4 linked regions of the Homo sapiens genome follow. Each later gene encodes a partner of the first gene's protein in a complex. Each region holds a gene or a part of one and is shown in the gene's direction. Other genes may lie near its edges. The genes, in order: GON7, TPRKB, OSGEP and LAGE3.

Region 1 (7,352 bases):
GCACCACCATGCCCAGATAATTTTTTGTATTTTTAGTACGGGGGGGTTTCACCATGATGGCCAAGCTGGTTTTGAACTCCTGACCTCAAGTGATCCACCTGCCTCGGCCTCCCAAAGTGCTAGGATTACAGGTGTGAGCCACCGTGCCCGGCCTATTTATTGTTTTTGTTTGTTTGTTTTGAGATGGAGTCTTGCTCTGTTGCCAGCTGGAGTGCAGTGGCGCAATCTCGGCTCACTGCAACCTCCGCCTCCTGGGTTCAAGCAATTCTCCTGCCTCAGCCTCCCAAGTAGCTGACCGAGTAGATGACTGGGTGCCACCATGCCCAGCTAATTTTTGTATTTTTAGTAGAGACAGGGTTTCACCATGTTGGCCAGGATGGTCTCGATCTCTTGACCCTATTTATTGTTTTTAAGTCATATCCGCTGATTTAAAAGCCTCAGAGAATAAGTACAACCAATATAATTAAACCTGAATTACTTTCAAGTACATCTCTCCCCCAAACCTTTCATATTAATTACCATCTATCTTGTAGGCTCTCAACAGTTTATATAGTTTTTCTAACAAAGTAAAAAATGAAATGGCCATCTGCAAAGAATAAGCATAAGAACTTCTTTTTTTGGAAAATACAGGTATTTGTTTTTTTACCCACTCTGGCAAATATTAACCTCAGCTGCTCTAAATGCATTTATAGTTACAGTGCTTACTTACAGGAAGTAATTTGCATTCCAAATTTTTAAACTTGCTGTTTCCACAATCACAACGAAAATTTCTGAAAAAAGGAGGAAATAACAATTTTATTTTTCTTTTTACAAAATCCAATTTAAAATTTCTTCAAGCATTCAAGCACATAGTAAGACTTCACAATTCGGGAAATTAATATGTACAAAAGCAAATATTTATATCACATACAAACACACAAGTAAAATGATGGCAGGGAAAGATAAATGGTTTGAGTTTGTACCATATTATGTTTTTAAAGGCTCTAGAAACAACTCTCTCCAATTATATAAAATAATTACATTAAATTTCATTAGTGCTGGGCGAGGTGGCTCACGCCTGTAATCCCAGCACTTTGGGAGGCTGAGGCGGGCGGATCACGAGGTCAGGAGATCGAGACCATCCTGGCTAACTCGGTGAAACACCGTCTCTACTAAAAATACAAAAAATTAGCTGGGCGTGGTGGTGGGAGCCTTTAATCCCAGCTATTCGGGAGGCTGAGGCAGGAGAATGGCGTGAACCCGGGAGACGGAGCTTGCAGTGAGCCTAGATCACACCACTGCACTCCAGCCTGGGTGACAGAGCAAGACTCCGTCTCAAAATAAATAAATAAATAAATTAATTAATTAATTTCATTAGTGTTCAACTGCTTTGCATGAAAAAACAAGATTAGGAAAAAGTGTAGATGGGAAAGAATCTATACTTCAAAAGCATTTAGTAACAATCTCTTGACTATGTTTACCTTTTTGTGTATAGCTCAAATAGTTTGTGACTTCCATGACATTCATAACTGCAAGCTAAACAAATTCCTGCTGGTTCTTCTCCCTCTGGGGTGCAGGTACTACAGGCATATAGTGCTTGTCTCTTTACTGAGCCCTGAAAGCCCCCAAAATGGAAAAGAGAATTAATGTAGTAGCATGGTTTACCTAATACCCACACTAGGAACTGAAAAATAATTAAAATCAGATTATCTGTGGTCAAGATCTTTCTGTAAAAACCATTAAGACTAAAAAGTTTACACAACAGAGCATCAACCAAAACACAGTTGCGTTGCAAGTTTCATTTTTATACTAGTGCTTTTTTTCATGCAAGCACTTTTTTCTTTCTTCCTTATTTATTTTTTGCAGAGATAAGGTCTTGCTATGTTGCCCAGGCTGGTCTCAAACTCCTGGGCTCAAGCAATTCTCTGCCTTGGCCTTCCAAAGTGCTGGGATTACAAGCATTAGCCACGACACAAGCCAGCACTTCTTTCTTAAAGTGATAGGAAGTCTGAATTTGTCAATCAGCTGTGAATAAATGGATCTGTTTAATCATTTTAATATGTGAAAACACAGGAGCATATGTACAGGTTTATGTAAGTAACATCACACTTTCATCCTGGAAAATGTTTGTAAATCTACCAAAGAAAGAATCAACACATGCAAAGAATCCCTTTGATTTTTAGGAGATGCCTGCTGAAGTATTTAGAGGTATAGTGTCATCGTGTCTGCAACTTATTTTTAAATAGTTCAAAATTTTAAAACAGCAAATTTTAAGTAGAAAAGGAGATAAAACAAATGTGACAAAATGTTAAAAAGTGAATATGTAGGCTGGGCACGGTGGCTCACGCCTGTAATCCCAGCACTTTGGGAGGCCGAGGTGGGCAGATCACTTGAGGTCAGGAGTTCAAGACCAACCTGGTCAACGTGGTGAAAACCTCATCTCTAGAACACCCCATCCACTAAAAATACAAAAATTAGCTGGACGTGATGGCGGGCGCCTGTTATCCCAGCTACTTGGGAGGCTAAGACAGGAGAATCACTTGAACCCAGGAGGTGGAGGTTGCAGTGAGCAGAGATCATGACATTGCACTCCAGCCTGGGTGGCAAGAGTGAAATTCCATCTCAAAAAGAAAAAAAAAGTGAATATGTATAAGAGGTATAGTTACCTTCCTCTAGGAAGGAGGAAGATAGATAAGGAGGCTTCCGGGATGCCAGTAAGGTTCTATTTCTTTTTCTTTCTTTTTTTTTTAAAGTTCTATTCCAATAAGCCTTTTGCACTCCTAATGTTCTATTTGTTGATCTGGGTTGTGGGAACACGCACACTTTCCTTTCAAGCTGTGTACATGATTTGTGCAAATTTCCGTATTTTTTTTTTTACCACAAAGAAAATATTAAGGAATCCATTTTATAAAGGTAACTACACTTCAAAAATAGTTTACATATAGACATAACTTTTTTCTTTTTTTTTTTTTTAAGTAAAGCAGGGGAAAAATTGTTTTAGTGGTGACCAAAGGTTTTAAAATACCTGGGGCTATGTCTGGATACCAGGTTTATTCAACAATCTAGCACTTTGCAGTGTAAACTAACCTTGGTCAACAACGAGAACTGGTATTATGATCTCAGTTCATACCACATAATGAATACAAGTCTCTCCCCTCATCTCCCCAGTGTTCCAATCCACCCCTCTTCCTAGGTAACCCTTCTTCCTACCAATTCTCATCCTTTGTCAGTCTTCTTCCTACCCATCCTTTTCCATTTTTGTACCTCGAAGTGTAGGGTGAGTCACTAAACACCACATCACACCCCCTCAAACACTTGCTCACTCACAACGTCTTCCAAATGCCAAACAGATCCTTTTCTCCTCTCTCCCCTCCCTTGCCAGAGCCACTTGCTGTTCTGTTTCCGGTCTATTTCCAGGGGAGGGGGGCAGACTGCAGATAGACATGGGTACTTGCTTCATTTTGCCAAAAAAAGAAAGAAAGAAAAAGTACTAGCTAGCACTTGTCCAACTAAATTGCAGAGGAACTAGCTGTCAAGGAGCTCACCGCAAATCCCTATGGATTTGAAAATCTCTTTAACCTGACTCTCCCATTCGGTCCCTAATAAATAAATAAATAAATAATCTTAGGATGGGAAAATCAGGGACAAAGATGTCTGGATCTGAGAGGTCGCGGGGTGGTTTCGTGAAAAGCAGTGGTGCACCAAGAAGAGGCTGGAGAGGACGGACAGAGCAGCTGCTCCAGGGCCCTTCCTGGCGGGCCGGACAGAGTTGGAGACAGGGGAGAGGGGGGCCCCTGCTGGACACAGGCTGAAGGGGGCCCAGGAGGTTGGGGTTAAAAGGGAAGGGTGAGCTTGGGGTGAGGAAGCGGCAGACTAACGGCGGCCCCGGACCACCACTGGGGAGACGACTGCGGCAAGGCGGGAATAGGGACAGCCGGGCCGGGAAGGGGAGGTTCGGCGGGAGCCGGGGGAGAGGAGGCCCGGGCCGCGCGCCCACCTGAGAGTAGGAGCACTTCTCGGAGTCGCTGCCGCCCAGGACAGCGCACGCCTCATTCTCCAGCTCCTCGTCCTCCTCAAGGACGTCGACCAACGATACCACGGGCTCCAGCTCCGACTGCCGCCCAGCGGCGCCCTCGGCTCCGGCCATCCTCAACTGTCAGCCGAACAGCGGCTCGGCCCCGGCGGAGGCGGGAAAAGCGGCCGTGAGGGGCGTAGCCGGAGGAGGTGGGGCCCGAGTGCCAGGAACCAATGACAAGGAAAAAAAGCGAAGGAAGGGGGAGGAGCGACTTCCGACAAACGGATGTCACTCCTCTCCCTTCTCCCGCCTGCGCCGGACGCGGGCTGATTTCCGCCTCCGGGTGGCGCTTCCCGGTGTCGTGTTCTGGAAGCTTAGCGGTCACCATGGAGCTGCTGGGAGAGTACGTCGGGCAGGAAGGGAAGCCGCAGAAGCTGCGGGTGTCCTGTGAGGCGCCGGGTGACGGCGACCCTTTCCAGGGCCTGTTGTCTGGCGTGGCCCAGATGAAGGACATGGTAACGGAATTATTCGACCCTCTGGTACAGGGGGAAGTGCAGCACCGGGTGGCGGCGGCTCCAGACGAGGACTTGGACGGTGAGCTCTGAGACGGTGCTGCAGTGACCGGAGGACGGGGCGGGCGCCCAGGGGAAATTGGCTTGGGGAGCCCGTGTAGAGTGGCAGACTTGGACAAAGTGAGCCTCGAGGAAAGAAGAATTGCATCTAAAAATTTTTGGCGGGCTAGGCGAAGTGGGGCTCACGCCTGTAATCCCAGCACTTTGGGAGGGCGAGGCAGGAGGATCACTTGAGGTCAGGAGTTCCAGAACAGCCAGGGCAACATATCGAGACCCCGTTTCTATTATTATTTTTAAAATAATTTAAAAAATAAAAATTGTTGGCATTTATCACTATATTTATTTGGGCTGCTTCTACTCAAGCGTTTCCACAACTCATCGCTATTTCGTTTATTTCACAAAAAAACGTGTCGAATGCCTACTATTATGTGCCAAACCCTGAGCTGAGCCCTGGAGGAAGAATGAGGTGAATGCGACTCAGTTCCTGCCCTTGTGAAACACAAGGGGACTAGACAGGCAGACACTCTTATTAAAAGTGGAAGTGGTCCGGGCTGGTGGCTCACGCCTGTAATCCCTGCACTTTGGGAGACCGAGGCAGGCAGATCACGAGGTCAGGAGTTCGAGACAAGCCTGGCCAATATGGTGAAACCCTGTCTCTACTAAAAATACAAAAATTAGCTGGGCGTGGTGGCATGCTCCTGTAGTCCCAGCTACTCTACTCGGGAGGCTGAGGCAGAAGAATCGCTTGAACCCTGGAGGCAGAGGGTGCAGTGAGCCGAGATCGCGCCACTGCACTCTATCGTGGGCGACAGAGCGAGACTCCGTCTCAAAAAAAAAGAAAAAAAAAGTGAAAGTGGTTCTGTGGTCCTCTGTAACTGTTGCAAACCCAGACACCCTAGGAAGTCTTCAGAAAGGATAAGACTTTTGAGCTGGGTGTTGAATAAAAAGGAGTTTTATCAGGTGTGAAACTACAGACATACTTGGAAGAGTACAATCTATCGCAGAGTAGGAACAGGTTCCAAAGACTGGGACAGACTTCATTTTATCACGTATTAACTCCCAGAGACTCCCTTGCCTTTCCAGTTTTGTAGGTGCAGTTTGAAAGTAGAAACATGAAGTTTAACTGCATTATTTTTAAAAAATTGCCTCGAATGCAGAAATAGGCAGGTACTTTTTTTTTTTTTTGAGATGGAGTCTAGCTCTGTCACTCAGGCTTGAGTGCAGTGGCACAACCTTGGCTCACTGCAACCTCTCCCTCCCCGGTTCAAGCGATTCTCCTGTCTCAGCCTCCGGAGTAACTGGGATTACAGGCACCCGCCCCCACTCCCAGCTAATTTTGTATTTTTAGTAGAGACAGGGTTTCACTGTGTTGGCCAGGCTGGTCCCGAACTCCTGACCTCGTGATCCACCCGCCTCAGCCTCCCAGAGTGCTGGGATTACAGGCGTGAGCCACCACACCTGGCCAGGCAGGTACATTTTAACCGTCCTGAGCTGAAAAACCCAAGAACTAGATATTAGAGTCAGGATTTACAATTATGTAAGAAGAGCTTAAACTGTACTTTCCTTCCATCTTGGGAAATACATCTTGATAATATGGATGTTGGCTATAATCAAAAAGAACAATAACAAGTGTTGGCTGGAATGTGAAGAAATTGGAGACCTTGTACATTGTTGGTGGAAATGTAAAACAGTGTAACCACTGGGAAAAAGAGTTTGGTAGCTCCTCAAAAAGTTGACATGAAGTTACCATATGACCCAGCAGTTCCACTGGTAGTCCTCCCAAGAAAACTGGAAACGTATGTTCACACAAAAACTTACGCATGAATGTTGATAACAGCAGCATTTATAGTAGCTAAAACGTGGAAACAACAATTGGCTGGGCTTGGTGTTGCGCCTTTAGGAGGTGGGAGGATCATGTGAACCCAAGAGTTTGAAGCTGCAGTGGGCTGATTGCTCCACTGCACTCCAGCCTGGAGGACAGAGTGAGGCCTCATCTCTTCATCTCTAAAAATGATAATTTTAAAAAATAGAAATAATGCAAATATCCATCAACCGATGAGTGCATTAACAAAATGTGGTATATCCATACAATGGACTATTATTAGCAATAAAAAGTAATGAAGTATTAACATGTGCTACAACATGAATGAACCTTGAAAACATTATGCTAAGTGAGAGCCAGACACAAAAGGGTACATGTTGCATGATTTTGTTTATATGAATGTACAGAATAGGCAAATCCATAGAGATAGAGTAGATTAGTGAGCCAGGTGCAGTGGTGGGCACCTGTAGTCCCAGCTACTCTAGAGGCTGAGACAGGAGGATCACTTGAACCTGGGAGTTTGAGTCTAGCTGGGCAACATAGCAAGACCCTATCTCTAATAAGGGGGAAAAAAAGTAGATTAGTGGTTGCCGAAGGCTGAGGGGAATGGAAAGCGACTGCTAATGGGCATATCATTTCTCTTTGGAGTGATGAAAGTGTTCTAGGTGATGGTTGCACAAGCTAGTGAATATACTAAAAACCACTAGGCCGTACACTTTTTAAAAGAGTGGATTTTGGCCAGCCACAATGGTTCATACCTGTAATCCCAGCACTTTGGGAGGCCGAGGCGGGCGGATCACGAGGTCAGGAGAACAAGACCATCTTGGCCAACATGGTGAAACCCCATCTCTACTAAAATGCAAAAAATTAGCCGGGCGTGGTAGCGCGTGCCTGTAATCCCAGCTACTTGGGAGGCTGAGACAGAGGAATCGCTTGAACCCCGGAGGCGGAGGTTGCAGTAAGC
Region 2 (5,001 bases), on another chromosome or scaffold:
ACTTTAGGAGGCCGAGGCGGGTGGATCATCTGAGGTCAGGAGTTGAAGACCAGCCTGGCCAACATGGTGAAACCCTGTCTCAACTAAAAATACAAAAATTAGCTGGGCGTGGTGGCGGGCGCCTATAATCCCAGCTACTCGGGAGGCTGAGGCAGGAAAATCATTTGAACCCTGGAGGCAGAGGTTGCAGTGAGCCAAGATTGCGCCATTGCACTCCAGCCTGGGCGACGAGCAAAACTCTGTCTGGAAAAAAAAAATGGCCAGGCATGGTAGCTCACGCCTGTAATCCCAGCCCTTTGGGAGGCCGAGGCAGGCAGATCATGAGGTCAGGAGTTTGAGACCAGCCTGGCCAATATGGTGAAACCCTGTCTCTACTAAAAATACAAAAATTAGCTGAGCATGGTGGTGGGCACCTGTACTCAGGAGACTGAGGCAGGAGAATCGCTTGAGCCTGGGAGGCAGAGGTTGCAGTGAGCCGAGATTGTGCCACTGCACTCCAGCCTGGGCAACAGACCAAGAATCCGCCTCAAAAAAAAAAAAAAAAAAAAAGAATGAATGAGCCATACAGGGCATTTAAGTATACATTAATATTTGTGATGTTATAGGGTAGCCTAAAAATCTGTCACGGTTAGGGAAAAAATTCTTGTCCAAGTCAGATGCAGCCAACTTTGACTATAACAGTGAATAGAGGCAGAAGTGCCAGGTCCTGCCCTAGGAAATAGGAAAGGTTGTGGTCTGGGTCTAATATGGGAAATGCCTGGATCTCCAGCTTCTCATCTTTAAAATGGGGGTTCCTAACAAGACAGTCTGTAGAGGAGGAATAGTGTAGTGGTTAAGAGTACACACAGAGGCCAAGGTGGGTGGATTGCTTGAGGCCCGGAGTTTGAGACCAGCCTGGCCTACATAGTGAAACCGTGTCTCTACTAAAAATACAAAAAGTAGCTGGGTGTGGTGGTGTGTGCTGGTAGTCCCAGCTACTCGGGAGGCTGAGGCACAAGAATCATTTGAACCTGGGAGGCGGAGGTTACAGTGAATTGAGATTGAGCCACTGCATTCCAGCCTGGGCAATGGAGCGAGAGACTCTGTCTGTCTCCAAAAAAAAAAAAAAACAAAAAAACAGGGCACACGCAGTGCGATCATGTTACCGGGAATTAATCCCAGACCTACTACTTAGGCCTTTGAACAAGACATAACCAACCTTTATATAGTGCTTACTGCATTCCTAGCATTGTTCCAAGTGCTTTACGTATACTAACTTGCTTAATCTTCACAACAGCCTATGGAGTGAATACTGTTTCATCGGTCTCTAACAAATAAAATGCTAATGAACTTGCATAAGTTTCCTAGGTGATAGGTGACAGAGATGGGATTCAAACCCAGACATTCTTTGCCTCAATTTCCTCATCAATTACATACTACTACTACTGCTACTACTACTAATAATAGTGTCAATTTCATAGGGTAGTTTTGAGGATTAAAGAAAATATTACAAGTAAAATGTTTGCAATATGATCATGCCCATAATATTAGCCCTCAATTAATGTTATTTAAAAAAATTTTACTATTTGCATAAGTTCCTTGCAGCTTTAAAATTCTGTGATTTCCTGACTACCCAGGCCCTTGGGATAATAGTTGTTTTTTGTTTTTTTTTTTTTTGAGACAGTTTCACTCTTGTTGCCCAGGCTGGAGTGCAATGGCGCGATCTTGGCTCACGGCAACCTCTGCCTCCCGGGTTCAAGCAATTGTCCTGCCTCAGCCTCCTGAGTTGCTGGGATTACAGGTGCGTGCCACCACGCCTGACTAATTTTTGTATTTTTAGTAGAGAGGGTTTCGCCGTGTTGGCCAGGCTGGTCTTGAACCCTGACGTCAGGTGATCTACCCACCTTGGCCTCCCAAAGTGCTAGGATTACAGGTGTGAGCCACCGTGCCCAGCCGGGATAATAGTTTTGAAAATACAGACCGTAAGAATTGTGATGAAGTAAAACAGCTTGACACTGGAGTTAACCATGAGTTACCATGTGTTTTCAGGCACTGCAGATTCTCCATGTGTAATTAATTCTTTTTCCTTGCTTTGGTAGATTGTTGATCCATTTCAGATACTTGTGGCAGCAAACAAAGCAGTTCACCTCTACAAACTGGGAAAAATGAAGACAAGAACTCTATCTACTGAAATTATTTTCAACCTTTCCCCAAATAACAATGTAATGTGCACTTTCCTATTTCTGTTGACCGTGTCATAATAACATATGTGTTCCTCAGTGTTGGGTTGGAGGCTAAATTCCTGCAAGCCAGTGGTTAGTAATAAACCCAAATAATAGTGAAGAGAGCTCTGGACAGAGAGTTGAGGTTTAACCCTGCCTCTTACTAAGACAGTTTACATATGAGTAAACAAAAATTTAGCTAAATTAAGCGAGGTTAATTTTATCTGTTCTTACCATATAGGGTCAGGAAGACCCCTCAAGTATTTTTGCTTGAGAAGCTGACAGAAATCTAAATGATAAAACATTAGGCGTGGATATTTTGTGTGCTAGCCTGCATATCATTCTCTCTTCCCGTAAACTCCTTGAGGGTGGGATCCATGTCTTTTTCATATACCAGGAACTTGCTTGTACCTATAACAGTCCTTAACACAGCCTCACTCACACACCCAGTACATAGGTAGAGTTTGTGGTTTGAAATACTTATAGTAATGCTTTTTCAATGAAAGTTATCAAGCTAAAGACATCACACATGTAGCACATGAAAAAAATGACTGCAATTTTGCTGATGAAGTTTTAGTATTACTGCTGCTGTTAATAACAACCAGGTACTAATGTCATCTACAGGAAACCTGTAGCATAGGTTAAAATACAGATGATTGACAAGTTTATAAAATGCAGTTATCTCAGCATGGTAATAGAGATTCCCAGTACCTGGAATAAAATTTACTAATTATGGTTTCCTTGAGATCATTAGACATAATTCAGAAAACTCTTGAATTCAGTAAACATCTGTTGAACTTTTTCCCCGTTCCATTTACAGTTCTAGGGGCAGAAGAGGCAAATATGTTCCTGAGGAGAGGCAGATAAACAAGACAAGTTAAAATGCCCTAAGATAAATGATATAATGGGAAAATGAATTCAAATCTAGGGGTACAGCAATGAAGCCATTCATTTTGGAGGGAGGAGGGTGTGGTGGGGAGTGGCATCAGAACTGTGGACCCTGAAGCATGTGTTCAGCAGCCAAGCCATGAGGAGAAGGGACATGCGAGCAGAGGACAAAGCTTGAGCACAGGCAGAAGGGCATGAAATGTGACTGGATCCCCAGGCAGGCTGGACTGGCCAGAAGGCAGAAGCGCCTGGCTGGAGGGCCACTTGGCACCAGAGGGAGGAGGTGTTTTTGTGCAGCGCCAAGAGGCTGGGCTTGATTCCATAGGAACAAGGCGTACCTTTAAGCAGGGAGTGCTTTTGAGGAAGTGCCAATGGATGTTGGAAAGGAATCATTAAAGTGAAAAAGTAGGCAGTGAGAACTGTTAGGACATGAAAAATAAGAGCCTGACCAAGGAAGAAGGCAGATCAGGAAATGTTTCAGACGTAGGAAACAATGGTTAATGATCTTGTGTTTTTTTTTTCATTTTTTTTCTCTTAGATTTCAGAGGCTTTGAAAAAATTTGGTATCTCAGCAAATGACACTTCAATTCTAATTGTTTACATTGAAGAGGGAGAAAAACAAATAAATCAAGAATACCTAATATCTCAAGTAGAAGGTCATCAGGTTTCTCTGAAAAATCTTCCTGAAATAATGAATATTACAGAAGTCAAAAAGGTTTGCCAGTCCATATTTTTAGAAAGAGTGTGATAGATGAGCAATAATGCTGATGCCGTTTGCCTATTGATCACCAGAGCTCCTTGTTTTTTGAACTTTTGAGAAAGTTAATCTAATTTTAAAAATTACTTAAAAATTACAGATACAAAGAACTGGGAGGTGTGATGGTTTATGTAAAATATAATTACAAACTCAGCTGACATAACCATTCTCCACATTAAGAAAGAGAATACCTTTAAATATCAAACTTACATAGTATATTTAAAATGTAAAATAAATTTAGTATGCTTTTAAAATGGATAGAAATTTGGTTTTTATGTTCTTGAGAGTTACTCCCATAGCAGCAATTTAAAGGGGATACAAGTAATGAATTGCCCTCTACTTTGAATATTTTAATCACATTTGTTGTTTGTTATACCATGAACCCAATAATTGAATGAGGAATAATTTCACTTACACATGTTTGTATAATGACAATTAGTAGTGAATGACGATATCAGCAAGTCATAATTTGTCTTTCATTTTTACAGATATATAAACTCTCTTCACAAGAAGAAAGTATTGGGACATTATTGGATGCTATCATTTGTAGAATGTCAACAAAAGATGTTTTATGAAATGTCAGAAATATTAACAAAAATTCTCAGCATTAAAGAAAACATTGATTTTCCTTTCCTGACTATAAAACTAATTGTGCATTATAGAAAAGTTTAAATCACAGAATGGTATTAAAAAAAAAAAAAAAAGGCCAGGCACGGTGGCTCACGCCTGAAATCCCAGCAATTTGGGAGGCCAAGGCAGGTGGATCACCTGAGGTCAGGAGTTCAAGACCAGCCTGGCTAACATGGTGAAACCCCATCTCTACTAAAATACAAAAATTAGCTGGGCATGATGGCAGGTGCCTGTAATCCCAGCTATTCGGGAGGCTGAGACAGGAGAATCGCATGAACCTGGGAGGCACAGGTTGCAGTGAGCTGAGATCGTGCCATAGCACTCCAGCCTGGGCAGCTGAGCGAGACTCCGTCTCAAAAAAAAAAACCAAAAAAAAAAAAAACAAAAAAACCACTTGTAGTCCTACCTCGTTGTATTTTAAAAGATAATCAGTTACTATTACTTGTTATTGCCTTCTAGAGTTCTGTTTCTATTCAAATATATTTTATTTTTATATAATTAGAATAAAAATTGCAAACACTTATG
Region 3 (6,829 bases), about 73 Mb from region 1:
GGCCGGGCTCTTTATTGGGCCTGTATGAAGGTCAGCCACCCTGTCCAGAACTTCTCCTGAGCCTGATGACCCACAGACTGTGCCTGGCCCCTCCCTGGTGGGGACAGTGACACTACGAAGGGAGCTGGGGTAGTTAAAGGCTCCCGGGGCTTCTAGAAGGAAGCCAAGCAGCTGCCTTCCTTTTCCCTGGGGAGAGGTAGGAAGGAACCAGGCCCTCACTTAGGTTTGGAGGGGCAGATAAGAGCACTGCTGACCATCTGCTTTCCTCCAAGGGTTGCTGTGTCTAGGGTGAAGTAGGCAAAACGTTGCCCTTAAAACTGGGCCCTGAAGACGGTTCCAGCCTTGTCCTTCCTGTGTGCTCCCTGAGAGCCATTCCTGTCCCTTACACATTCCAGGGCAGGGTGGGGGTGGGTAGCCCTGGGGGTTCCCCTCCCTCTTGTGCACCATTAGGACTTTGCTGCTGCTATTGCACTTCACCAGAGGTTGGCTCTGGCCTCAGTACCCTCAGTCTCCTCTCCCCACATTGTGTCCTGTGGGGGTGGGGTCAGCCGCTGCTCTGTACAGAACCACAGGAACTGATGTGTATATAACTATTTAATGTGGGATATGTTCCCCTATTCCTGTATTTCCCTTAATTCCTCCTCCCGACCTTTTTTACCCCCCCAGTTGCAGTATTTAACTGGGCTGGGTAGGGTTGCTCAGTCTTTGGGGGAGGTTAGGGACTTATCCTGTGCTTGTAAATAAATAAGGTCATGACTCTACGCTTTTTCAGTTGTTAACTTGTGTGCATGAAAATATGAGGAAGAGAATGTGTAGCCCCACGAAGGGGTAAGACACGAAGACAGCAAGGCTGAAACTATGGCTCTTTATTTTCATGTGGATAATTCAAACAAAGTCATTAGTAGTCTTTGTTCAATTTTTTTTTAAAAAACAAAAAACCCTCAAATAAAAAATCTTGGGCTTAAAAGAACTCTATCACAGGAGCCTGGTTGGAGGATTCCTAGTTTTATACATGAGAAATAGAATGCAGATTTCTCTGAAGAGTGTTTAAAGAAGGAATGGTAGTTGAGGGGGCTTATTTCCCAGGCTCAAAGTGATTTAGGGGTGGTGTCACAGTGCTAGGTATAGGGTGATAGGACAGTGATCACTGCCGAGGGCCTTGGAACGGATCTTGCTGTCACACAATGCAGGTAACAGAGAGTGGGACAACAAAAAGTAATCAAGGCGCCAACCAACATTCTTGGATCGAGCATTCATCATATAAGTCCAAAAGGTGTAGGCATAGGGTGTGTTGGGGTAGAGGTGCCTAAAGCTGTCAGCCAGTGGCACAGCCTGCAGTAATTCCCCGAAGCCTTGGCGCTCTTGTGGCGTGAAGCCAGCATTCTTTTTGTTCCCCTTGGGGTTGCGAAGGTCAATTTCTTCATGTGCCACATTGAGGTCTCCACACAGCACAAGGGGCTTTCGGGAAGCCAGGCCCTTCAGGAACTTGCGAAAGGCTTCATCCCAGCGCTGCCGGTACTCCAGTCGTACCAGACCTCGGCCTGCATTAGGTACATATGCTGTTACCAGCACAAACGAGTCAAATTCAGCCACAATCACCCGGCCTTCCTGATCATGCTCCTCATCGCCTATAGAAATGAAACAGAATTAGCATAAAAAACTATAAGAAAAGGGAAAGCAATCAAGAGGTGGGGCAGAGATAGAGAATTAGCAATTGGTTTTGAAGAGTTCAGGCATTAGGCATCAATAGGGTCTCACCTATGCCGTAAGAAACTTTGAGTGGGCACTGGCGGGAAAGCAGGCCCACGCCACTGTACCCTTCCTTGTCCGAAGGAGCTGACCAGTATTGATGAGAGAGTCCAGGCAGCTCCTGAAGTTCAGCTGGTAGTTTGTTCTCTGAACATTTGGTCTCTTGAAGGCACAGTATATCTGGGGCTTCTTCCTTTACCCACTGTAAGTGAAAAGAAAGGTGGAAAACGTATTATCAATTCAGCAGAACATTTATTGAATAATCTATATGCTAAGTCATAGATACGCACGGGTTAAACAGTCTCTTGGCCTAAGGAGTTCGAGTCAAGCAGCACAATATTCAAACAATTCTAAGCTAGATAAATGAAAACAAATATAGAGAGGTAAGAAAGTCTTACATGCTATGCCAAGGAGATGTGTTTTTTCTATAGGCAGTGGATAGCAAGCTAAGATTTTTAAGCTATGGTTAATGGAATGGAGGACATGCTTCATATGGAATGCAATGCAGGAAGATAAAATGGAGGAAGTATAGTGAAGAGGTTTTTGCAACATTCTGGGAAGAGGAGAGAACACTAAAAAAGAAAATGGCAATGGAAGTGAAGGAACAGACATTTAGGAAATACAACTGGCAAGACTGGGGAAGCCCCACAGAAAACTACGGGCAGGAGAAAAATAAAACAGCCTGAAGGCTAAACGGAGAAAAGGGGTGACTAAACCCTAAGACCATTCAATACTAAAAAATGTCTCTTTCCCTCAAATTCCACTCACATCTAATCCTTTCTTCTTAATCCAGGCTCGAAGCCCATCCACATTCCAAGAGCAGATCTTGAGTGTGGCAGGTTTGCCACTGGGTGAGGTTTTCTGATCTGGGGGGTCCTCATACAGGGCTGGGCCCTCTCCTGCTGCCTCTTTGTCATTTTTCTTTGCGGCCGTCTTACTCTTCTTGGCCTCTGGCTCTATAAAATGAGTAATATATACTGACAAAAAGCTGGTGGTTTCCAACTGCGATCCGGCGTTAACTATAGACCCAACGAAAGCCTACGGTTCCTGCGACTTCTTCACAAACCCCTGCAAAAATGAGTCGGCCCGTACTTACCGTACATCAAGGGAATGACAAACACCCCCGCCGCAGCTTCTAGGAAGAAGGGCTGATTTCATTCCCTTACCTGTCCTGAGCTCATCCCCGTCTTCCGCCACCGCTCCCTTTTTCCCACGCTTCGGCATTCCCGTTACGAACGCCCTTGGGCAGCTGTACCGCGTCACCCACCGAAGCAATATTTTTACCGCGTTGCCTACAGACGCAAAGAAATCATGAAACCAGCTAAGGCTGGGGAGAAGACTCCTCCCAAGAGCGTCCCCGCACCAGGTCCCGCCTTTCAAACCACGTTATCTCTAAATCCTTTCCCCGCCTCCGTGCATCATAGGCCCTTCAGCCCCTCACCCACGAAACTAGATCATTTCATAGTGCCTTGTACCCTACTCGCGAGATCTGCCCTCCAGCCAATTGAGGATCTTAATTAAGGGTCCTGACTCAAGCTTGCCGTTCAGACTGCCAGCGAAGCCCCTCTTATGAGCAAAAGAGCAACCCCGTATCTGCACCGGCCCGATGGCAGCCTAGCTCCTCCTAACCCGAGCACAAAGAAGGGTGCACGCTGAGCCCCCACGTGGGTAGCGGACCTGGTCACGTGATCAGAGGCGCGCTTGTCGTGGCCGAAGAATGCGCGTGATTGGTCTGTCTGACACCACGTGACGGAGACGCTTAGCCTCGCCTCCCTCCTCTAATTCTCTAGGACACTTAGGTCCCCAACCCTCCCTCGGGCTGTTTATCGTTGTGCCAGATGCACAGCACATTGTGTGACACTGACTTAAGATTCTAACTATGTGCAAGAGGGAAAAAAACAGTGGAGAAGGCTGGGCTGGACCACGGGAAAGAGATAGGAAAACGGATACGAATGTAAGGCACAGAGTTGGCTCGGCGTCCCTGGCAGTTAGGAAGACAGGTCCCTGGAGGGGCCTTGGCGGGTCTCCGCTCGCGGGAGTTCCGCGGTGTCTTTCCCAGTGCTATCTGCAGGCTGGCCAGCTTCCTCTGCGCTCCGGAAAGCTGCGGCCCAGCGCGGACTAGTGAGGACCTCCACAGCTCCTGACATTGCCAGGAGTCCTGTCGGCGTTTTCTCCCAGCCTCCGCCATGCCGGCGGTGCTGGGTTTTGAAGGCAGCGCCAATAAGATTGGCGTGGGCGTGGTGCGGGATGGCAAGGTGCTGGCGAACCCGCGGCGGACTTACGTCACGCCTCCTGGCACAGGTTGGTGAGTAGGGGACTTAAGAGTTTTCCGCGCACTTCCCCGCACAGAATCAGCCTTCCATCTTCCTAAATACTAGTGAGGTGCAGCTTTCGATCCGAGTCTCATTGAAATTATGTGACATTATTAACGTCACAAGGCTGATGACTAGAAGAGTTACAGGCACTTGGACGTGGATCTGATGAGTTCATTTACCTTTTACTGAGCGCATTTTATGTGCTAAGTATTCAGAAATAGATGTTATACTGCTGTGGAGTCAGACATATAAATAGATGTTTATACTACAGCATGATAAACAGTATAATAGAGATGGACTCGAAATATTCTGTTTAAAAAACGCTTAGCAGGAGTATAGATTCCAGTTGCCCTGAATATACACTCCCTTTTTAAAAAAAAATTATTTTTTGAAATATTCTAGGATGAGTAGAGAGATGAGAGTGGAAAGACTCCCGGCTTACATGTCAGACAGAACTGGCTGGCTTTGCTATATTCATATTAAATATTTTTGTTTTGGACATTTGGTCTTTATTTTTTATTTTATTTTATTTTTTTGAGACAGAGTCTTGCTCTGTCGCCCAGGCTGGAATGCAGTGGCACGATCTCGGCTCACTGCAATCTCTGCCTTCCAGGTTCAAGCGATTCTTCTACCCCAGCCTCCCAAGTAGCTAGGACTATAGGTGTGCGCCACCACATCCAGCTAAATTTTGTATTTTTAGTAGAGTCGGGGTTTCCACCAGGCCAAGCTGGTCTCGAACTCCTGACCTCAGATGATCCGCCCACCCCAGCCTCCCAAAGTGTGGAAATTACAGGCATGAGCCACCGCTCGGGCCTGGTCTTTGTTTTTAAAATGGGAATAATACCTGTATCATTAGGTCTTGAAGATTAGATGAAAGTACCAAACACGGCTGGGCGTGGTGGCTCACGCCTGTAATCCCAGCACTTTGGGAGGCCAAGGCAGGCAGATCACCTGAGGTCGGGGTTCGAGACCAGCCTGACCAACATGGAGAAACCATGTTTCCACTAAAAAATACAAAAAATTAACTGGGCGTGGTGGCGCATGCCTGTAAACCCAGCTACTTGGGAGGCTGAGGCAGGAGAATTGCGTGAACCCGGGAGACAGAGGTTGCAGTGAGCCGAGATGGTGCCATTGCACTCCAGCCTGGGCATCAAGAGTGAAACTCTGTCTCAAAAAAAAAAAAAGTACAAAACACATTACAACTTTTAATTGATATTTTAAATAAGCTATTATATCTTGCTACTCTCCCCTCAAACACTTGCATACATAGGAGAGGGCAGCTGACTTGCATGTATCTGAAAAGCCTCCCTGAACAGGTGATGTTGTGACAGATACTCACTAGAAATATATATGTATGTTTAGCATTCACTCCTCTGGGCACTTGGGCACTGGGAATACAAAGATAAATAAAATACTCAATGCTTTGAGATATTCATGATTAAGCTGAGCAAACCACAGAAAATTATAATGCTGTAATTGTTATGTTAAATAAATGACATCATCATGCATAGAGTTCTGTAGGGTCACAGAGAAAGAAGATCACCAAAGGCCAGGCACGGTGGCTCAGGCCTGTAATCCCAGCACTTTGGGAGGCCGAGGCAGACGGATCACGAGGTCAGGAGTTCGAGACCAGCCTGGCCAATATGGTGAAACCCCGTCTCTACTAAAAATACAAAAGTTAGCTGAGCGTGGTGGTGTCGCCTGTAGTCCCAGCTACTCAGGAGGCTGAGGCAGAAGAATCTCTTGAACTCAGGAGGTGGAGGTTGCAGTGAGCCGAGATCGTGCCACTGCACTCCAGCCTGGGTGACAGAGCTGAGACTGTCTCAAAAGAAAAAAAAAAAAAAAAGATCACGAAAGGGTATGAGGTAGATACTACTTGCATTGAGACCTGAAGGCTGAGTAGGGTAAGAAGAAGAGCATTTCTGAAAGTTGAATAGCCTATATAGAAGCCGGAAAGAGTAGATGTGAAAATGTGGAAGATAGGATGCTTGGGGAAAGTGAAAGGACTCTTACTACATCACTAAAACTCCTGTTGCTTTCTTTAACTTCCTACCTACCTTTGCTACAGAAAATCCCTGTGATCTCTGACCTATGTTCATTTTCTAGGATTCCTTCCAGGTGATACAGCCAGGCATCACCGAGCTGTTATCCTAGACCTGCTGCAGGAGGCACTAACAGAGTCTGGATTAACCTCCCAGGATATCGACTGCATTGCATACACCAAGGGTATGGCTGGGAGAGTGGTCAACGATGGAGGAATATACCTGCAACCTGGCTAGGTCAAAATAGCCAACACCTTACCTCTGCCACCATCACTACCCCTACCCCACCTCACATCCCTTATGTCCCCCACTATTGTTTTTTTCCAATCTCTAGGATTATAACTTCCATTTCTATCTCCCTAGGCCCTGGCATGGGTGCCCCACTGGTTTCTGTGGCTGTTGTGGCCCGTACTGTGGCCCAACTGTGGAATAAGCCATTGGTGGGTGTGAACCACTGTATAGGCCACATTGAGATGGGCCGCCTCATCACTGGAGCCACCAGCCCAACCGTGTTGTATGTGAGTGGAGGAAATACGCAGGTATTTAGAGGGCTCTACCCACTCCATCTCAATTTCTGAGGCACTGAACCAGTATTTTCTTTGTTCTATCTGAGTCATGGGAATGTCAGGAACAAAGATGGACTTATCTGAACCTAAAATACTGTAGACCAGAAAACCCCCAACAGAGTTTGTAACATTGCAAATTTTGGCAGCATGATCAGAA
Region 4 (7,029 bases), on another chromosome or scaffold:
TTTGAAGAGCACACAGAAGCCCCTGGCCCCCCACGAGAGCTGGAGAGCCATGTATATGGCTTCAAAGCCACCTACGGCAGGGACACACTCGTGAGCATGTGTGGCCTGCAGTTCAGGTGATACATTTACCAGTGTTCTTGTTTGTGTGGTGCCAGGAAATTGATTTTGGAAAAAGTGAAATAACATTAAAGGTGAATGTGAGGCTTCTACTTTTATCCAAAAGGAGCTATATTAGCTAGGCTGTTTCTGATATCCAATCATTGGTTTAACAATAAAGGCAATTTGTTTAATCAGTTAACGGAAATTTCTTGGCTTATGAAAGTGAAAAGTCCAGTGGTATTGGCATTGGCAGCAGGTGAGCAATTTCACCCAGTGTCTTCTGCCTCCCTCTGCGTTGGTATCTGCTACATCCCAGGCCACCACCTCCGAGGATGAAAAGATGGCTGCCTGCAGCTTCCACGGAATCCCTCCCTCACTGCCAGAGCAGCATCTTCTCTGTGTACCACCTCTGCTGTCTCAGATGCCCCCAGCAAATAAACACTCTTCTCGTTGGTCAGAACTGGATTGTGCGTCCAATCATTTTGGCTGGGGTAGGGGGTAATTCTCCGTCAGGGCTGGCTCCCTGGAGCTAGGCATGGGGCCACTTCCCTGGACACACATGGGCTATGCAAGGGACAGAAGGCTCTGGGGGAGGGCTGGATGAATGGATATCCTCAATGGTGGCCGCAAATGGCAGCTGTCCACTACAGGGGCCATGCATGTGTCAGATCAGGGCCACCTCGCAGGTAGTGGAGGAGAGGGCTGGAGGCGTCAAGATCACACAGGGAAAGCGTTTTCTGAGGCTTGGGTTAGGGAAAGCACCAGAGAGAGGAAACACTGCAGGGATGGGAGACAGGAAGTGGGGGGATCGTTAGAGGACACTGGGGATTCTGCATGAAGATGGAGCAGCCACAGGCTGCAGCCCCCCCAATGCTGAGATCCTTTAACAGGGGTCAGAATGTTTACTGCAGGTGCTGCGCCCCTCTGAGCCAATTGTCCGCCCTGAGAGGTAGCACCGAGTCATCCACTGCCCCCTGCCCGGTGAAGGGCCCTGAGACCCACCACCTGCCCCTCAGGGAGGGGCCTCGGGACAGTATCTGAGTCCTGCGGCCATGGTGTGACTACAATGACATCAGGAGATAGCAGCATGAGTGAAGGGCCCAGCTGGGATGAGGTGCTTTTGGTGTCGTTTCCCAAGGGCCCACGGGAGGAAGAGCGGCCTCAGAGGACAGCAGCATTTGCCTTGGGGTGGGGAGGTTCCCTGGCAATGGATCAGCTGGTGTCCCATGTGAGCCTCACCAGCTCCAATAGATCTGCCCGGGCCTGGTACTCCCAGGAGTAGATGCAGCAGAGGTGGCCAGCCTTGAGCCTCCCAGCCCTGAAAAGCCTTCAGGAGAGATGAGAGACACACAGCAACTGCCCTGTCCTCCTCCAGGGCCCAGCTGGAGCGGCCTGCATACACCTTCAGGGCCCCACTGAATGGCCGGCAGTCCTCATTCCTCACCCTCTTCTGCCTTTGCTCTCCCGCTGTTTCCACCACTTGCTCCTACTCAGGCTCTCTTGCTGGTTCTTCACACACACCCCACCCCTCAATGTTGGTGCCCCAGGGCTCTGTCCCTGAGCCCCTTCTCTTCCCTCTGTATCACTCCTCGGGGAGCTCATCCAGCTTGCTTTCTATTTCTGTGCCTCACTGCCATGTCTATGTCTCATCCCGGCCCTCTCTCCTGAGCTCCAGCCCATGTCTTCCAGACAGCGCCTGACTTTGCTGCAGACGACACCCTGCTCATCACTGAGTGCCCCCTTGTGTCCCAGGTGCTGGCAACCCTGAGACTGGAAGACACAGTCCCTTCCCTCTTGGCACTCACGTCCAGCACTGGCCGGCTCCTCAGCACACACGTGTTCTCCACGGCCCGGCTGGAGGACTGGCAATGCCACTCAGCCAGGCTTCTGAGGGAGCAGGAGGCCATCTTTGCCTCTCCCAACTAGCCATTCTCCATAGGCAATCAGGCAAGAATATTTTTGGAAGCATCCAGGGCAGCTGCTACTGTATCCTTTCCTCCTCTGACCACACTCACCCCCAGCCCCTCATCAGGCAGCTGGCAGGGTCAGGCTGCCCCACTGTTGAGGACGCTCAGTTTGATCACGTGATCCAGGTGGCTGCTGCCAGATCTCTCCCCTGTAAAGACGCAGTTTCCCTTCCTGATTCACAAGTAATTTGGGGTAATATTTGGGGACTTTGTGAATATCCTGTCCCCAACAACCTTTCAGCTAATGCTTTTGCCATCCAGCGACAATTCCTTGCCTGAATCGATTTTTTTTTTTTTTTGTGAGACGGAGCCTCACTCTGTCACCCAGGCTGGAGTGCAATGGCGTGGTCTCGGCTCACTGCAATCTCTGCCTCCTGGGTTCAAGAGATTCTCCCGCCTCAGCCTCCTGAGTAGCTGAGACTACAGATGCATGCCACCACAGCCGGCTAATTTTTTTTGTACTTTTAGTAGAGATGGGATTTCACTGTGTTGGCCAGGCTGGTCTCAAACTCCTGACCTCGCAATCCACTCGCCTCGGCCTCCCAAAGTGCTGGAATTACAGGCGTGAGCCACTACACCTGGCCATCCTGAATCAATTATTAAGTTAATAACAATTAATTATTACATTGGTGGTTGCAAAGATGGTAATTTTCTGATAGTTTTTTCTACAGCTATTACTTGCCATTTCCCTATAAAAACCTTTCCTTTATCTCTGCTTTCTTTCCTGAATATCATGGACTTTTTTGTTTGTTTGTTTGATTGAGACAGAGTCTCAGTCTGTTACTTGTGCAGAGTGCAGTGGCTAGATCATAGCTCACTGTAGCCTTGACTTCCTGGGCTCAAGCAATCCTCCTGCGTCAGCCTCTCTGGTAGCTGGGACCGCAGGCACACACTGTCACAGCCGGCTAATTTTTTTTTTTTTTTTTTTGAGACAGAGTTTTGCTCTTGTTGCCCAGGCTGGAGTGCAATGGTGCGATCTGGGCTCACCACAACCTCCACCTCCCGGGTTCAAGCCATTCTCCTGTCTCAGCCTCCCAAATAGCTGGGATAACAAGCTCCTGCCACCACAACTGGCTAATTTTTGTATTTTTAGTAGAGATGGGGTTTCACCATGTTGGTCAGGCTGGTCTGGAACTCCTGACCTCAAGTGATCTGCCTGCCTTGGCCTCCCAAAGTGCTGGGATTACAGGCATGAGCCACTGCGCCCAGCCCCATGCAATTTAAATTAGAAATTAAAAAGTCATTCTGCGGTGTGGTGAATAGGTTGTAGAGGGGAAAGTGTAAAAGAGAATCAGCCAGGAAGCTGTTGAGGGAGGTCAAGGAAAGATGCTGGCTTCCACAGCAGACTAGCAGTGGAGAGCGAGAAGTGGGCTGATGTGGAACCTATTTCAGAGGGAAACCCAACAGGATTTGCTGATATAGTTCAGTGTTTAATCCTTCCTTATGACTGCAAAGGAGGAAAATAGGTTGTCCAAACATGACAAACACTGTTGGAAATTTTATGTCACTTTATTTATTCATTTTTTATTTTTATTATTTTTCTTTTTGAGACAGTCTCCCTCTGTCGCCCAGGCTGGAGTGCAGTGGCGTGATGTCGGCTCACCACAACCTCCACCTCCCGGGTTCAAGTGATTCTTCTGTCCCAGCCTCCCGAATAGCTGGGACTACAGGCGCACACCACGACACGCAGCTAATTTTTGTTATTTTTAGTAGGGCCGGGGGTTTCACCATGTTGGCCAGGATGGTGTTGAACTCCTGACTTCAAGTGATCCACCCGCCTCGGCCTCCCAAAGTACTGGGATTATAGGCGTGAGCCACCGTGCCCGGACTGATGTCACTTTAAATACTTTTTTTTTTATTGTAAATGTCATAAAAGACCACTTCGGAAAAATTGGAGGGAAAACACAAAAAGGAAATTAAAGTCACCCACCATACTATTAGCAGAGATCATGAGGATTTACCTGACGCTGTATTGTTCTAGGATTTCTCTACATATGTACAGTAAGAGACTAAGTTGGCATTTTCTTTTATTTTTTGAGGCGGGGTCTGGCTCTATCAACCAGGCTGGAGTGCGGTGGGGCGATCACGGCTAACTGCAGCCTCTGCCTCCCGGGCTCAGGCTGTCCTCCCATCTCAGCCTCCCTAGTAGCTGGGACCACAGGTGTGCACCATCACACCCAGCTAATTTTTGTATTTTTTGTAGAGGCAGGGTTTCACTATGTTGCCCAGGCTGGTGTCGAACTCCCGGGCTCAAGCAATCAACCCTCCTCAGCCTCCAAGAAGCTATGACTACAGGCACGCTCCACCACTCCCAGCTAACTTTTAAAATTTATTTTTGTATTTTTTGTAGAGACGGGGTCTCACTATGTTGCCTGTGTTTGTCTTGAACTCCTGGGCTCAAGTGATCCTCCTCCCTTGGCCTTCCAAAGTGCTGGGATTCCAAGCGGGGGCCACTTTGCCTGGCCTAAACTGGCATTTTCATACTCATAGTTGTGCAGTCTGATTTTTCACGTTATATTAGACCTAGACCCACCGCCAGTACTTTCATTCAAGGCCCTGTCATTTTTCGCCTCCGTGCAGGCCTCCTGCTGACAGGCTCCCCCGCTCTGCACAGCCCACCCGCTCTAAAATGCTTCCTCTAAAATGCACATCCGATGCTTCACAGTCCATGGTGAAGCCCCGTTGGTTGGGCACTGGGGTTGAGGGCAAGAGCAGTATCCTTGGGGGTTACCCGACCCGGCCACCCTCCCTCTGCGAATCGCAACATGGACGTTGTGCCACATCTCCTGGGGCTCTTGGGTCCAGGTAAGAAACGGGGCGGGAAGCCGTCCAGGCACCGCAGGGCCTCACTGGGGCCTCCAGGGACAAGGGGGAAGGCCCCGCCAGCGCAGGCGCGCTAAGGTCACAAGGCGCGCTTAGGGGCGGAGCCTCGCGGGGTGCGCCTCTGGGATAGGCGACCACGGTGTCTTCAAAAGCCCCGTCAGGGTTGGCTTCCTGGGGCCGGACCGACTGTGGGTCAGTTTGCACCAGCGCTCTGGAATCGAGTTACGCGCGAAAGGGCAGAGTTTCTGGAGGAAACCGCAGCCTCTCAACCGCTGACCGGGTCTCAGAAGGCCCCCGGCAGGGCCGCTTGGCGGGAACTGACCACGCGCCAGTCAGGCTCTCCAGGGACCTGCGCAGGCGCGTGTGGGCGGAGTCGTGCGCAGGGGGCGGGGCTTCGGGAAGGAGCCACAGAGAGGGCGGGGCGTAGGACCTGCGCTTCGGGGGTGGAGTCGGAGCGGCGCGGCGGCGGTCATGCGGGACGCGGATGCAGACGCAGGCGGAGGCGCTGACGGCGGGGATGGCCGGGGTGGCCACAGCTGCCGCGGGGGCGTGGACACAGCCGCAGCTCCGGCCGGTGGAGCTCCCCCAGCGCACGCGCCAGGTCCGGGCAGAGACGCCGCGTCTGCGGCCAGGGGGTCACGAATGCGGCCGCACATATTGTATCCTTTCCGAGCTGGGGGCTGCTTGCGGCGGAGCGAGGGCTGGACTCGGGGAGAAGGAAAGGAGGGCGGGCGGGGGGCCGACGGAAAGGGTAGCAGGGGGGGACCGGGGCTGGCGTATACGGTCAGAGGTGGTCGGAGGAGGGGAAGACATTGAAATGGAGGGAGAAGCTCTGCTAACGGTGGCCTGGGCGAGGTAAGGAGTGAAGGGGGTGACACTAGGCAGGGTGACCTGAGAGGGGGCTTCAGAGGAGCAAGAAGGCCTGAGACATAGGCAAGATCGTATCAGATGGCACCTTAACCGAATGACCCCCAGCACCCTCAGCGTGCCTTTCCCGACCCCCTTGGAGGCGGAAATCGCCCATGGGTCCCTGGCACCAGATGCCGAGCCCCACCAAAGGGTGGTTGGGAAGGATCTCACAGTGAGTGGCAGGATCCTGGTCGTGTAAGTTCTGAAAGGGACGGGGTTGGGGGAGGCGGCCCATGGAGACATGGGGGACATCCAAGGATGAGCCCTAAGGAGCGCCAGGTGCGCTGGGCCGGTCTCTGCCTGAGGGGCTGTGTAATGGCAGGGCTCCCAAGGGTTTGCTATATTGGGTGCCTGAGGGGCAGAGCGAGGGACCAGGAGTTGCCACCTCCAATTTGATTTTCTTTTCCCCTCACTTTTAGCCGCTGGAAAGCTGAAGACTGTCGCCTGCTCCGAATTTCCGTCATCAACTTTCTTGACCAGCTTTCCCTGGTGGTGCGGACCATGCAGCGCTTTGGGCCCCCCGTTTCCCGCTAAGCCTGGCCTGGGCAAATGGAGCGAGGTCCCACTTTGCGTCTCCTTGTAGGCAGTGCGTCCATCCTTCCCTAGGGCAGGAATTCCCACAGTTGCTACTTTCCTGGGAGGGCCTCATGTTTTATCTGGTTCTTAAATGTTTGTTACTACAGAAAATAAAACTGCGCTACTATTCCAAGTCTGAGTTTATTTGCAGCTGGGGCACCTCCCAATATTCTTGTTGTGCTTGGGTTGCTGGGGGGGGGGTTCTAGAATTCAGATATTCAAGGAGTACAAGGAAATTGAAGACAATTTAGGAAATGGAAGAAAATGAAAATCAATTGGGTTCTGTCATTCAGGATTAACTACTGTCAACATTTTGGAATACTTCCTCAGTTTTACAGTTGCACTTACATAGTAAATGTGTAACTGTAATATACACCACATAATATTTGCAAGTTTAGTGTTAAATTTTTTTCCTGATTTTTAAATCTAACATGAGCTTTTTTCCTCTAACGATCAGTGAAGAAAGTGCTGGGGCAATTGACTAGTGTCTGGGGCAAGGAGTTGGCTCCCTGGAAAATACAGTGTCTCCAGCCTTAGGGCTCTTTTATAGATTCTATCAGATTTTCTGAGAGTGAAAAGGAAGAGGTACAACTGCTTTTATTCTCAGAAAACAAGGAAATGGTTTGATCCTTTTGAGTCTTGCTTTGAAGATGTG

Evidence for each region.
Region 2: GON7 (region 1) and TPRKB share a complex: the UniProt entries of both Homo sapiens proteins name them as parts of the EKC/KEOPS complex.
Region 3: GON7 (region 1) and OSGEP share a complex: the UniProt entries of both Homo sapiens proteins name them as parts of the EKC/KEOPS complex.
Region 4: the proteins of GON7 (region 1) and LAGE3 are in contact, whole or in part, in a crystal structure (PDB 6GWJ), measured with the Homo sapiens proteins. Residues at the interface, in NP_115879.2 of Homo sapiens: Met1 (codon at 4,381), Glu2 (codon at 4,384), Leu3 (codon at 4,387), Leu4 (codon at 4,390), Gly5 (codon at 4,393), Glu6 (codon at 4,396), Tyr7 (codon at 4,399), Val8 (codon at 4,402), Gly9 (codon at 4,405), Gln10 (codon at 4,408), Leu17 (codon at 4,429), Asp28 (codon at 4,462), Pro29 (codon at 4,465), Phe30 (codon at 4,468), Gln31 (codon at 4,471), Leu33 (codon at 4,477), Leu34 (codon at 4,480), Val37 (codon at 4,489), Met40 (codon at 4,498), Lys41 (codon at 4,501), Val44 (codon at 4,510), Thr45 (codon at 4,513), Leu47 (codon at 4,519), Phe48 (codon at 4,522), Asp49 (codon at 4,525); in NP_006005.2 of Homo sapiens: Pro60 (codon at 5,538), His61 (codon at 5,541), Ile62 (codon at 5,544), Phe63 (codon at 5,547), Thr64 (codon at 5,866), Leu65 (codon at 5,869), Ser66 (codon at 5,872), Val67 (codon at 5,875), Pro68 (codon at 5,878), Phe69 (codon at 5,881), Pro70 (codon at 5,884), Glu74 (codon at 5,896), Arg102 (codon at 5,980), Ile103 (codon at 5,983), Glu111 (codon at 6,231), Cys113 (codon at 6,237), Leu116 (codon at 6,246), Arg117 (codon at 6,249), Val120 (codon at 6,258), Ile121 (codon at 6,261), Leu124 (codon at 6,270), Asp125 (codon at 6,273), Leu127 (codon at 6,279), Ser128 (codon at 6,282), Val131 (codon at 6,291), Arg132 (codon at 6,294), Met134 (codon at 6,300), Gln135 (codon at 6,303).

Annotation. Positions count from the first base shown.
Region 1 is NC_000014.9:93,204,066-93,211,417, reverse strand, and holds the start of GON7 (EKC/KEOPS complex subunit GON7), read left to right. Parts: upstream 1-4,352; 5' UTR 4,353-4,380; coding exon 4,381-4,588; intron 4,589-7,352. Other genes in the region: putative E3 ubiquitin-protein ligase UBR7, read right to left, coding at 710-770, 1,461-1,594, 3,977-4,126. UniProt on the Homo sapiens protein: Component of the EKC/KEOPS complex that is required for the formation of a threonylcarbamoyl group on adenosine at position 37 (t(6)A37) in tRNAs that read codons beginning with adenine.
Region 2 is NC_000002.12:73,729,363-73,734,363, reverse strand, and holds the end of TPRKB (EKC/KEOPS complex subunit TPRKB), read left to right. Parts: intron 1-1,659; exon of another isoform or gene 1,660-1,663; coding exon of another isoform or gene 1,664-1,780; intron 1,781-2,078; coding exon 2,079-2,201; intron 2,202-3,627; coding exon 3,628-3,804; intron 3,805-4,334; coding exon 4,335-4,421; 3' UTR 4,422-4,491; downstream 4,492-5,001. UniProt on the Homo sapiens protein: Component of the EKC/KEOPS complex that is required for the formation of a threonylcarbamoyl group on adenosine at position 37 (t(6)A37) in tRNAs that read codons beginning with adenine.
Region 3 is NC_000014.9:20,451,790-20,458,618, reverse strand, and holds the start of OSGEP (tRNA N6-adenosine threonylcarbamoyltransferase), read left to right. Parts: upstream 1-3,806; 5' UTR 3,807-3,935; coding exon 3,936-4,050; intron 4,051-6,170; coding exon 6,171-6,290; intron 6,291-6,469; coding exon 6,470-6,645; intron 6,646-6,829. Other genes in the region: PIP4P1 (type 1 phosphatidylinositol 4,5-bisphosphate 4-phosphatase), read left to right, coding at 1-60; DNA repair nuclease/redox regulator APEX1, read right to left, coding at 1,111-1,628, 1,759-1,951, 2,518-2,705, 2,916-2,973. UniProt on the Homo sapiens protein: Component of the EKC/KEOPS complex that is required for the formation of a threonylcarbamoyl group on adenosine at position 37 (t(6)A37) in tRNAs that read codons beginning with adenine.
Region 4 is NC_000023.11:154,477,247-154,484,275, reverse strand, and holds LAGE3 (EKC/KEOPS complex subunit LAGE3), read left to right. Parts: upstream 1-4,994; 5' UTR 4,995-5,360; coding exon 5,361-5,548; intron 5,549-5,864; coding exon 5,865-5,993; intron 5,994-6,217; coding exon 6,218-6,332; 3' UTR 6,333-6,501; downstream 6,502-7,029. UniProt on the Homo sapiens protein: Component of the EKC/KEOPS complex that is required for the formation of a threonylcarbamoyl group on adenosine at position 37 (t(6)A37) in tRNAs that read codons beginning with adenine.